3 linked regions of the Homo sapiens genome follow. The protein of the gene in region 1 purifies or fractionates together with the protein of each later gene. This does not show direct contact. Each region holds a gene or a part of one and is shown in the gene's direction. Other genes may lie near its edges. The genes, in order: SPRY4, MYOF and CCDC107.

Region 1 (3,648 bases):
GGGAAGCAGGGAGCACATATTAAATTGCACTTAAGATTGTCAGCATTGCTCAGAGTGGAGGGTGGGTGTTTCTCAGTGAGTAGAGATTGATCTACCAAATCAACTGAGAGTTGTTTTTTCTTTTTCTTTCTTTCTTTTTTTTTTTCTTGAGACTCAGTCTTGCTCTGTCACTCAGGCTAGAGTGCAGTGGTGCGATATTGGCTCACAGCAACCTCCGCCTCCTGGGTTCAAGTGACTCTCCTGCCTCAGCCTCCCAAGTAACTGGGATTACAGGCACCTGCCACCATGCCTGGCTAATTTTTGTATTTTTAGTAGAGATGGGGGTTTCATCCTGTTGGTCAGGCTGGTCTTGAACTCCTGACCTCAAGTGATCTGCCTACCTTGGCCTCCCAAAAGGCTGAGATTACAGGCATGAGCCACTGCGCCAGGCCTTCTTTCTTTTCTTTTTTTCTTTCTTTTTTTTTTTGAGACATCATTTAGCTGTGCTGAGGGGTTCTTAAATAGGCAGCTCAGAAAATTGTTTTCCTTTGTCAGCCACATAAATTCAGCAGAGGCTCTTGGAGGGTCCCTGCTGGTGAGGGGTGAGGCCAGCAGTGGAACTCTGATTTGGTTTTTGCTGAGCTGGTGGTTGAAAGGAATCCTACTACATCGGGGTTATAATAGGGAAGATACATTTTAGAATATGCCCAGTGGAGCCATCGGATGCTGCATCGTCCCCAGAGAGCCAAGTCATCGTGGGCCAAGCTCCCATCCCCATGTCTGGCCTCAACTGCAGGCCCAGATGTTGACAGCTGCCTCTGGAGGGTTATGGGAGCCTGTGAATGCCAACATCCCCATTGCCTGCAGCGGCTGCTCCCATCCTGGCTTCCTGGTGGGACTTTTCCATGAATTGGGGAATCTGCTTTCTGATTCCAAGGCCTATTAAAATTTCTGAGCATTGCCCATTTCTTTTGCTTTATCTGTAGGACATGGGCTGTTTTTAAAGAACCTCACAAATGAAAAAAAAAAAAAAAAGTGAATCTGCTTAAGGAAAGGGAGTCTTTTACTTTCTTCCACAGCATGACCAGACCCAATCCTGGTCCTGAGAGACAAAACCCAACTATATGGGGCAATAGAAGCTTCAAACTGCTGCCTACATTGTGTTGGCAGGACCCTGAATATTCCTGACATCGGTTTCTGGAACAAGGGACTCATGTTATCATTGTCCGGGGGTGAGGGTTCTGGCTGGTGCTGGAGAATCTTATCCGTGGCATTTTTAATTCTTAGGCCAAGCCACACCCTTTCCTCCAGGCAGCGTCCTCAGTGCTGGACCTTGGGCTCCTAACCCTGGCCTCTTGCCCCAAACTCATTTATTCTAGAAGCAAGGCTTTGGAACACCTATTGAGAATAAGTGGGCAGGCTGAGGTAGCATTCCCTGGAATTCCTACGTTGTCATCAGCCTGATCCTTGGAAAAACTCCTCTCCATAGATGCTTACTTGCATTCCCTCTCTCCAGCCCTGACCACAGGATCTCCAGGGGAGGCTGCTTTGGCAAGTGGCTACTCTTTGGTGGCAGACCTGCCAGACACTTAAGGTAAACTCTGCCACAAGGAAATCGCCAATTCAAAGGTGATGCTATGGTTTCATCCGAAGAGAACATGGGGGCAGGCACTGCCACTAGGTAGGCTTTCTCCAAGACAGGAAAAACAAGGCGTGTAAAGAAATACCAGCATCCTTTTAAGTAGGCAGGGCCATGGGAGCAAAGCCAATAGTTGATGCCCTGCGTGAATGGGAAATATCAGTTGACTGAGCATTGAACCTCGCAGAAAAGACTGGATGCTTTTTGGATTTAGCAGTGTAAGTGATATACATACTGGAGCCCCGTGGATAGCCCCCTTTTTATCCCCTTCATAAACTTTTATCTAGAGCTAGCTTTTTATTTTAGACAGGTTCTAGATAAACCTAACAGCAGAGGGGCAGGATCAGCTCTCCTAATTAGAACATCGTTAGCATCTTGATGCAAATTTAGTAAATGCAAAAGCATTTACTAAAACCCCACCCCATAATACATTAATGCAATGGCCTTTTTTTGGTTTTGTTTTAAAGACTTATCTTTCTCTTTTACCCTCCCTCCCCATTCCCTGGGGTTCTTAAGATTGGGGTGGAATCTTCCCAGAGTGTAATCTTTCCCTTGGATTCCAAATTGTATCCCCTTGAGCAGAGGTCTTGGCCTTCTGCTGCTATTTCTTTAAATTGATCTCCAGCAGAATTCCAAATGTAAAGGTCAGCAGGCAAGGAAATGGCACTTCTAATAGAAAACAATGTGCACTTTCTAAATTTGAACCAAGCAGTTTCCGCTCTTTGATTTAAGTGACTTCCTGGGGTTCCGTGTCAGGCACTGCAGTTGAATCTCTGGCTGGATTCCAACTTAAAATTGCACTCTCTCGGTGAAATTAGAAACTGATCCAGGGTTGGCTTAGCTACTCTAGTAAATAGCATTTAGGCTGAATGTTCAGCTCAGCACTTGGAAATGGGTGATGTGAGTGCCCCTCGAGAGGATTTCCCATCCAAGTTGTCAGAAGCTCACATACCCAGGGATTATTAGCCACTGCAGGTTGCTGCTCTTAAGAAGTGGTAGTAATAAGTTAATATCCTGGATGTGCAGGCATCAGATACAGCCCTTCTCTTGTGAATATCTGAAATAAAGGGCTTGTTTATCCAGCTGATAAACTCCATGGGAGCACCCAGAGCTGTCTGTTGAGTTCACCACATTGTCCCCAGTGCCTGGCACAGTGCTTGGCAGGCAGTGCTTGTAAGTGCTCAGGAGATCTAAACTTATTCCCTGGGGTAGCGATAAATTGTTGCTGCGTGCCAGGTAATATGCTAGGTAATAGATAGTATTTTCTCATTTAATCCTTGCAAGAGCCCATTTTACAGATGACAAAACCAAAATCTAAGGCATAGAGATGAAAGAACTCATTCATAGCAATATTGCTAGACCAAAGTGAGAGTCAAATTTGAGTGTTGTTCCAGAGCCTGTGTTTACATCCACTGAGCTATGTGTCTTAAATAAGGAGCATGTTTCACAGTGACTAAGAGAATGAACTCAGGCTGCCCAGGTTTGAGTCCTGCTACTGATAGTTTTGGATAGTTTTGTGTGACTTTGGACAAATTAATTTCAACATGTCTTTTCTCTAAATAGAAAAGGGGGATAATAGTAGTTACGTTTTAGGCTTATCATGAAGTCAATGACTTAATGCATATGGTGCTTAGGAGAGTACCTCCATCTTAAGTGCTCAGTAGTATTATTTCCACCACTGACTTCTTGTCATTATTAATCATCTTAAGCTTGGGGAGTCACTGGAAAGTCCACAGAGGGATTTTAGTTCCTATGTCAATTGGGCGGCTCCCAAGGACCTGATGGGGGGTGAGGTATTGGCAGGCCACATACTGATGCCTGGAATCCATTCTCTCTTCCTTTTCCCCACCCCACCCCCAGGGCCCCTAGAAGCCTGTTTCTCCGTACAGTCCAGGACCTCCAGCCCCATGGAGCCCCCGATCCCACAGAGCGCCCCCTTGACTCCCAACTCAGTCATGGTCCAGCCCCTTCTTGACAGCCGGATGTCCCACAGCCGGCTCCAGCACCCACTCACCATCCTACCCATTGAC
Region 2 (3,748 bases), on another chromosome or scaffold:
GCCTTGGAGAAACTCGTGGAGACAGAAGAATTCTTGTAGGTTAAGTCATGCTTATTCAATGTACTTGAAATGTTTATTTACAGGTGGGTCTGCTTGATGTGTGTTCTAAAGCAAAAAGAAGCCCAATGTTTCTTCATCCCAAGTTTTAGCCTTTTCTTCTGAAATATAACGAGATCCTGATTTAAAGTCAGCCTGCACTAACAGAAACGCTGTGAGACCACAAATAAGCATGAACTTCTTACATGTGCAAATTACTGTGTGCTTTGTGCCAGCTCCTATGCTATGACCTTTATCTTATAACAGCCTTTATCCCCAGTTCATAGATGAGGAAACTGAGGAAGAGAGGGGTTAAGAAACTTGCTCGCCAGCACGGTGGCTCAAGCCAGTAAAGCTCAAGCCAGTAAAGCTCAAGCCACGGAGGCCGAGGCGGGCGGATCACAAGGTCAAGAGATCGAGACCATCCTTGCCAGCATGGTGAAACCCCGTCTCTACTAAAAATACAAAAAAAAAAAAAATTAGCTGCGTGTGGTGGCGCACGCCTGTAGTCCCAGCTACTCGGGAGACTGAGGCAGGAGAATCGCTTGAACCCGGGAGGCAGAGGTTGCAGTGAGCCAAGATCGCTACACTGCACTCCAGCCTGGTGACAGAGCGAGACTCCGTCAAAAAAAAAAAAGAAAAGAAAAGAAAAGAAAAGAAACTTGCTAAGATGACGTAGCTCAGGGTGGTGAGGCAGAGTCTCACACTCAGATCTGGCTGACTAACCCCAGGCCGCCTCTTGTGATCTCAGCCAAGCTGCACTGTCTTCATGCACCCTCTGGGACAGAAAGACACCATGGGCAGCTGTAGGTCCAGAAACAGTGGGGAGTCACTTCTCCATTTTCACTGAAGGCAATTGGCAGCATTTGAAGAGCCGGGAAAACTTAGGCGCCCAGCTCTCACCTCTGAAGGGGTTTTGAAGAAATTCTATGTTCAGTCCTTTATATATATATATATATATATATATATATATATATATATATATATATATATATATATATAATTATTTATACATATATGTAATTATTTATATATCCCATGCCTGGATCGCGTTTACTTGAAATAAACGCTGTCATTCGTTTGCCGTCCAGTAAGAGGCACCCTTTAGCTGCTTTAAAAAAGCTGAACATAGGGTTACTGAGTGGGTGTGTTCAATGGCGTGAGAAGTAACAGCGAAAAGTCAAAAGCAAATAATGACTAAAGTTTTAAAACTCCTTGAAACTCAGAAAAGAATGAAAGCAGTGACGGAAAAATCAATTAATTCAGTTTCACGAACCATTGCTAAAAGGCAGCAACATTTTAGTGGTTTCCTGACCTACCCGTATTTCTTAGCTCCAAATTCATGTTGGTTTCATTTGTCGCACGGAATTATTTTTAGTTTAGGGTTTGTCCTTTTCACTTCCACATTTCCCGAATTCATAAGTCTGTGCCTGCGGCACTGCGTAGACGCGGGGAGTTCGGTATCAGTTTACACGTTGCCTTCAGTAAAATCCGCCAGAGGTCCACCCATTTTGCCTTTTCCCCTTCCTTGCCCTGGGAGAAATCCTCCCTTCACTGGGAGAGAACTTCTCTCCCAGGGCGGTGCGACCCGGAGCTCCAGCGCCCTAGTCTCCACTTCGTTTGCTGAAACTTGCTTTCTACCAGCTAAGAACCATGCTGCGAGTGATTGTGGAATCTGCCAGCAATATCCCTAAAACGAAATTTGGCAAGCCGGATCCTATTGTTTCTGTCATTTTTAAGGGTAAGAAAAAGTTTTCTTCTTTTTCTGAAGTCCTGTTTTGGAATGTTAGTTTCTTGAGTCACCTTCTTGAAAAGTCTGCATTTAGACAGCTGATGAAGCCAAGTCTCTCCAGCAGCGTTTGTTACCTGCGCAGGACAGGGGAGAGGACCCGTTTCTGGGGAAGGCATTTAATTTTCTCCAGGGCTTGAGACTCATGGAATGACCTGATGTTTTAGCTCTAAGAGTGTGATTTCTGTAAGCTCTTGGCAGAAAACGTATTTGCGAATCACTAAATTTCAGGTATCAACAAACATCTGTATTGGTTCAAAGTAAGTTTCAGTAGTCTTAGATGCATTTTTTCTCTGCCTGTGAGAAATGGGTAAAGGAGGAAGAAGAGCAATTAAATTGTTGGAGACACCATTACTCCTTGAACCAGCCTGACGCTGCTTTGATTGTCACTGGGTTTCTGGGAGGTGGGATGGGTGAAGTTCATAGTTTTATTGAGTTTTCCTGCCCTTTTGTGCCTTTGTAATTGTTTTTATATCTAAACTGTTGGGGAGCTTTTTTTGTACATTCTGTAGCTTTTAAATTGCTCATTGAGGAAAGAACTCTGGACAGCTAGTTTGCAATTTGGGGATCTAGTTCTATCTTGCCTGCTGAATGACCTTGGGCAAGTTACTTCATTTCTCTGGGATCTCAATTTTCTTTTCTGCAAAACAGGCGAGAAGGGTTTAGACAAGATCATCTCTAAAAACCTCATGGTTGGCTGAGCACAGTGGCTCCTCAACCCTGAGCCAACTTTGGGAGGCCAAGGCAGGAGGATTGCTTGAGCCCAGGAGTTTGAGGCTACAGTGAGCCGTGATCACGCCACTGCACTCCAGCCTGGGTGTAAAAATAAATAAAAATAAAAGGCTCATGGTAATTTTAAAAGGCTATTTTTCTATGACACTTGATTGCCATTGCAGGGGAGGGGACAGGAATGCTTGGTGTCATGGTACAATTTGATGTAAGTGACTTAGTTTTGGCTAAAGTGGGGTTTCTAAATCTCAGTGTGGAGGCTTTATCTATTTTGTTTGTCATTGGTAAGACTGCCAACTCACTTCTTGGCAAGAGGGATGGGAAAGAGAGGGAAAGGCAGAGAGAGTGGGAGCATGGATAGACATGTGTTTCCTGACCATGCCTTGCTACATTTCTCGTTTCTTCCAGGAGCCTGACTGCTACTCCCTGTCAGTTCCTGAGGCATCTATACCTTTCGCCTTTCTGTTTCCCGTTTTTCCCCTTTATTTCTCTTCTTAAACCTCTCTCTCTGAGGATGAGCAAGAAAATGAAAGAAATGAAACTCAAAGCTGGCTGGCTGGGTGTGGTGACTTCTGCCTGTAATCCCAGAACTTTGGGAGGCTGAGGTGGGTGGATCACATGAGGGCAGGAGTTCGAGACCAGCCAGGCCAACATGGCAAAACCCCATCTCTACTAAAAATACAAAAATTAGCCGGGCATGGTGGCACATGCCTATAATCCCAGCTACTCGGGAGGCTGAGGCAGGAGGATTGCTTCAACCCAGGAGGAGGAGGTTGCAGTGAGCCGAGATCATGCTACTGCACTCCAACCTGGGCAACAGAGTGAGACTCCGTCTCAAAAAAAAAAAAAAAAAAAAAAAAAAGCTGGCAAATTGTTGGTTGGTTAAAAAAAAAATCTAAAGGGCAAAAATTGGATTTAAAAAAAATTTAAAAAAATTTTTTTGAATAAGACTGGGTCTTGCTATGTTGCCCAGGCTGGTTATAATTCCCTTGCTCAAACTTTCTTCCCATCTCAGCTTCCCAAAGTGTTGGGATTACAGGCGTAAACTACCACGCCCAGCTTAAAATTGGGCTCTTAAAGGACAATGAGGTTTGAAAATCTGGCTAGTGAATATCATGGACTCACGTTATGTCAGAGTTTATTTACATGTGTTAGGTTTTATTAATTTTTTGTTTTCTTGAAGCAGTTACATAA
Region 3 (3,748 bases), on another chromosome or scaffold:
GTGCATGGGAGGGATCTAGGTTGCACGCTCCTCGTGAGAATCTAATGCTTGACGATCTGAAGTGGAACAGTTTCATCCGGAAACCATCCCTCCACCCCGCTTCGTCCATGGAAAAATTGTCTTCCACGAAACCGGTCCCTGATGCCAAAAAGGTTGGGGACTGCTTGTCTAGTGGTATTGAAGAAAGTGAAATAGCGGCACTAAAGAATAAATTAGAAGTTGAATTAAGGGTTCCGAATGATGGGAACACACTTGAGCTGAGAACTGAAGGTCGTGTAGAACCCAGTATGCAGAAAGGGAATGCAGCGGCATGTCAGGGAGAGTCAGTGTAATTTCAACTGTCTGGCTTACAGTAGTAGCTGCTCAAGTTAAAAAATCACTAGAGTCCGTCGGGGTGGCACGTGCCTGTAATGTCAACTACCCGGGAGGCTGAAGCGGGAGGATCCCAGGAGTTTAAGACCAGCCTGGGCAAGAGAGCGACCCGCCGTTCCAAAAAAAAAAAAATCACTAATAAGTAGGCACGGTTCTAACTTGAGTGATCCCATTTAATCATCATAGCTCTTGAAGTAAGTGCTTATCTTCATTCCTCAGAGTGGAAAGGAAGGCACGGAGAGAGAACTAAGTTTCACAAGGTCACCGCTCTTGAGTACAGGAGGCAGGATTCTAGCCCAAGCAGAGTCCATATGTTGTGTACCAGCTACACAGTGAATGGTGGCTACTATGGCGTTTGCCAAAGGGAGAGGGAGGTAGAAGAGGAGGCTGTTTCAGGAATGCTCCATATTTGGAGTAATGAGCACAAGGACTTCATAGCAAGGCCAAGAACAGCGTAAAGCTGCCCGCGCATGAAAAGCAGCCGCGTTGACCGGGCGCGGTGTCACGCCTGTAATCCCAGCACTTTGGGAGGGCGAGGTGGACTGATCGCTTGACACCAGGCGTTCGAGACCAGCCTGGGCAACAGGTGAAAATCCGTCTCTACAAAAAATACAAAAATTAGCCAGGCATGATGGCGTGCGCCTGCGGTCCCAACTACTTGGGAGCCTGAGGTGAGGCATCGCGTGAGCCCGGGGAGGTCGAGGCTGCAGTGAGCCGTGGTCTCGGGAACAAAAAACAGCCGCGCTGAGAATGAGCCCCGTGTGGTTGGTGCGCGGACACGCACTGCCTGCGTAACTAGAGGGAGCTGACGGATGACGCCCCCGCGCCACGCCGCTCAGCGGGATACGCTTCTTGGCGGACTTTGGAGTGGGAAGCGGGGAATGTCTACGTGCGTATGCACGTGGCACTCTCTGCCCGAGGTCCGGGGACTTTCCCCTAGGCGGAAAGGGGAGGAACAGAGTCCTCAGTGTGTAGCCTAGGATACAGGCCTTCAGCACGAACCACGTCCTCAGCTTCACAGAGTAGTATTTTATAGCCCTAAAGAAATTGTGTTTTATGATTAGGGTGAGAAAGTTGGTGGCGTGAGATTAAAAAAACCGTTTTCGGGCATAACTTTCTAAGACTATAGGCTTTCAGAGGCATTGTGGCTAGCAGAATAGCTAATAGACACGAAATGAACAAATACAGGAAAGCTAGAATGACACTATCTTATGCAAATATGGTCTGGCCCCGCCCTACGGGGAGTGGGCGTGGCCTCCCCGGAGCCGGCCGGCCTGCTCGCGTGCGCGTGCGCGTTGGGGCGGCCGGCCAATGCCGGACCGCTTCGGCACCGCCCGCCCGATCCCTCCACCCGTGGGCCGGCAATGGCGGGCGCAGTTTCGCTCTTGGGTGTGGTGGGGCTGCTGCTTGTGTCTGCGCTGTCCGGGGTCCTAGGAGACCGCGCCAATCCCGACCTCCGGGCACACCCAGGTACCAGCTAGGGCTGCTGGAGGAGGGCTGGGACTGCGCACGGGTCCCAGGCCCCAGCTCGGCTGACTCGCCTGTATCCTCCCTCCGCAGGGAACGCAGCCCACCCCGGCTCTGGAGCCACGGAACCCCGGCGGCGACCACCGCTCAAGGATCAACGCGAGCGGACCCGGGCCGGGTCGCTGCCTCTGGGGGCGCTGTACACCGCGGCCGTCGCGGCTTTTGTGCTGTACAAGTGTTTGCAGGTACGGGGCGGCCGGGGGTAGGGGTGCCCCTGCAGGTGCGGGACCGCCGGGCGTGGGGATCCCCTGAGCCCGAATCTCCCATGGGGGTGCCAGGGTACCAAGAACAAGACACAGCTTCCCTGTCTGTAAAATAAAGACAGTAGTCCGTTGGCCTTCCAATATTATGAGGTTATTTTGAGGATCCAGGGAGGTAACGGATGTGAAGAGCGTGTGGTGAACTGTAAATAATGACTATCACATTTAGTTCTCCTACAATCCAGTGAGGAGTAGTCACTTGCTCGAGGTCACCCAGCGCTGGCAACTGCTGGAGCTGGGATTTGAACCCAGCTAGCAGTGTCCATGCTACAAGAGTGGGGCCAGCCTTGGCACAGGAGGTTGATTGCTGCAGCCAGTGTTTCTAGAGTTCCAGATATGAAGTGGTCTCATGTTCTCCTTGGGAGGAGGCCCTGAAATGTAAGTTGACAGTACATTTTGAAAAACAGTACCTTCCAGGGCTGTGTCTTTAGCCGTGACCCTATTACGTACTTGCATTATAAAATAGAACCGATGGAACCAGTTTAGATATATGAAACTAGAAGAGATAGCTAATAATGACCCCAGGTAGATGTGACAGGCTAGGATGAATGACTGAATTTAATGATGAACTTTGAGAAGGATAGACTAGTAAATTCTGTTCTTGGACCTGAGTACAGTCTGGGAGAAACATAATGTAGCAGGAGGTCTTATGAAAGAGAGTTAGGCATTCCAGTTGACTGAGTTCACTGTGGGATGTGACAAGCCACTTCCCAAATCAGTGCTGGGAACATGGCACTGTGCTTCACCTGCCAATCAGAATGCCCCTGGAGAATTGTATTCTCCTCAGGGCATTGCTTTAAGAGCACTACGTGTTCAGGAAACAACCAGAGAAAACCACCGTCAATGAGCACTGACTGTAAAGACTGACGTTAATAAACCAGAAAAAACTCAGGAAAGTGGGTGAGGGTGTGACCATTGCCTTCAAATTCCTGAGGGGCTGTCACCTTGAGGAGACATTATTTTGGAAGGCTCCAGTAAGCACTATGGAAAGAAGATACATAAAGGACAAATTTTGGCTTTGTGCATGAACTGTCTAACAACCAAAGTTTTTGTTTTTTTCGAGATGGAGTCTCGCTCTGTCACCCAGGCTGGAGTGCAGCGGCGCAATCTCGGCTCACTGCAACCTCTGGCTCCCAGGTTCAAGCGATTCTCCTGCCTCAGCCTCTCAAGTAACTGGGATTACAGGCACCTGCCACCACGCCCGGCTAATTTTTGTATTTTTAATAGAGACAGGGTTTCACCGTGTTGGCCAGGCTGGTCTCAAACTCCTGACCTCAGGTGATCCACCCACCTTGGCTTCCCGAAGTGCTGGGATTACAGGTGTGAGCCACAGCACTCAGCCACCAGAGCTTTTTTCAAACCGGAGGGAGTTGCTCATTCCTGGAGGTGTTTCAGCAAACTGACCATGTGTGGGACATAGGACGTCGCTTCATATGCTGGGTGAGGAGCTAGATAGACTAGGATTGTGATTCTCTGAGGTAAAAACCCAATCACTGTCTCCATCTCAAATTGCACTCTCTCTTGGCTGGCTCTGGAGACTGAGGTGATGGAGCAGAACCTTGTTGCTTCAGTACTGCCCTTTCCTTCTT

Evidence for each region.
Region 2: the proteins of SPRY4 (region 1) and MYOF purify together in Homo sapiens (affinity purification with mass spectrometry; one large-scale study listed by BioGRID and IntAct). This does not show direct contact.
Region 3: the proteins of SPRY4 (region 1) and CCDC107 purify together in Homo sapiens (co-immunoprecipitation; one large-scale study listed by IntAct). This does not show direct contact.

The regions. Positions count from the first base shown.
Region 1 is NC_000005.10:142,314,986-142,318,633, reverse strand, and holds part of SPRY4 (protein sprouty homolog 4), read left to right. Parts: exon of another isoform or gene 1-1,573; intron 1,574-3,478; coding exon of another isoform or gene 3,479-3,525; coding exon 3,526-3,648. UniProt on the Homo sapiens protein: Suppresses the insulin receptor and EGFR-transduced MAPK signaling pathway, but does not inhibit MAPK activation by a constitutively active mutant Ras. Probably impairs the formation of GTP-Ras.
Region 2 is NC_000010.11:93,480,136-93,483,883, reverse strand, and holds the start of MYOF (myoferlin), read left to right. Parts: upstream 1-1,549; 5' UTR 1,550-1,689; coding exon 1,690-1,777; intron 1,778-3,748. UniProt on the Homo sapiens protein: Calcium/phospholipid-binding protein that plays a role in the plasmalemma repair mechanism of endothelial cells that permits rapid resealing of membranes disrupted by mechanical stress. Involved in endocytic recycling.
Region 3 is NC_000009.12:35,656,644-35,660,391, forward strand, and holds the start of CCDC107 (coiled-coil domain-containing protein 107 isoform A precursor), read left to right. Parts: upstream 1-1,648; 5' UTR 1,649-1,736; coding exon 1,737-1,842; intron 1,843-1,932; coding exon 1,933-2,084; intron 2,085-2,699; exon of another isoform or gene 2,700-3,748.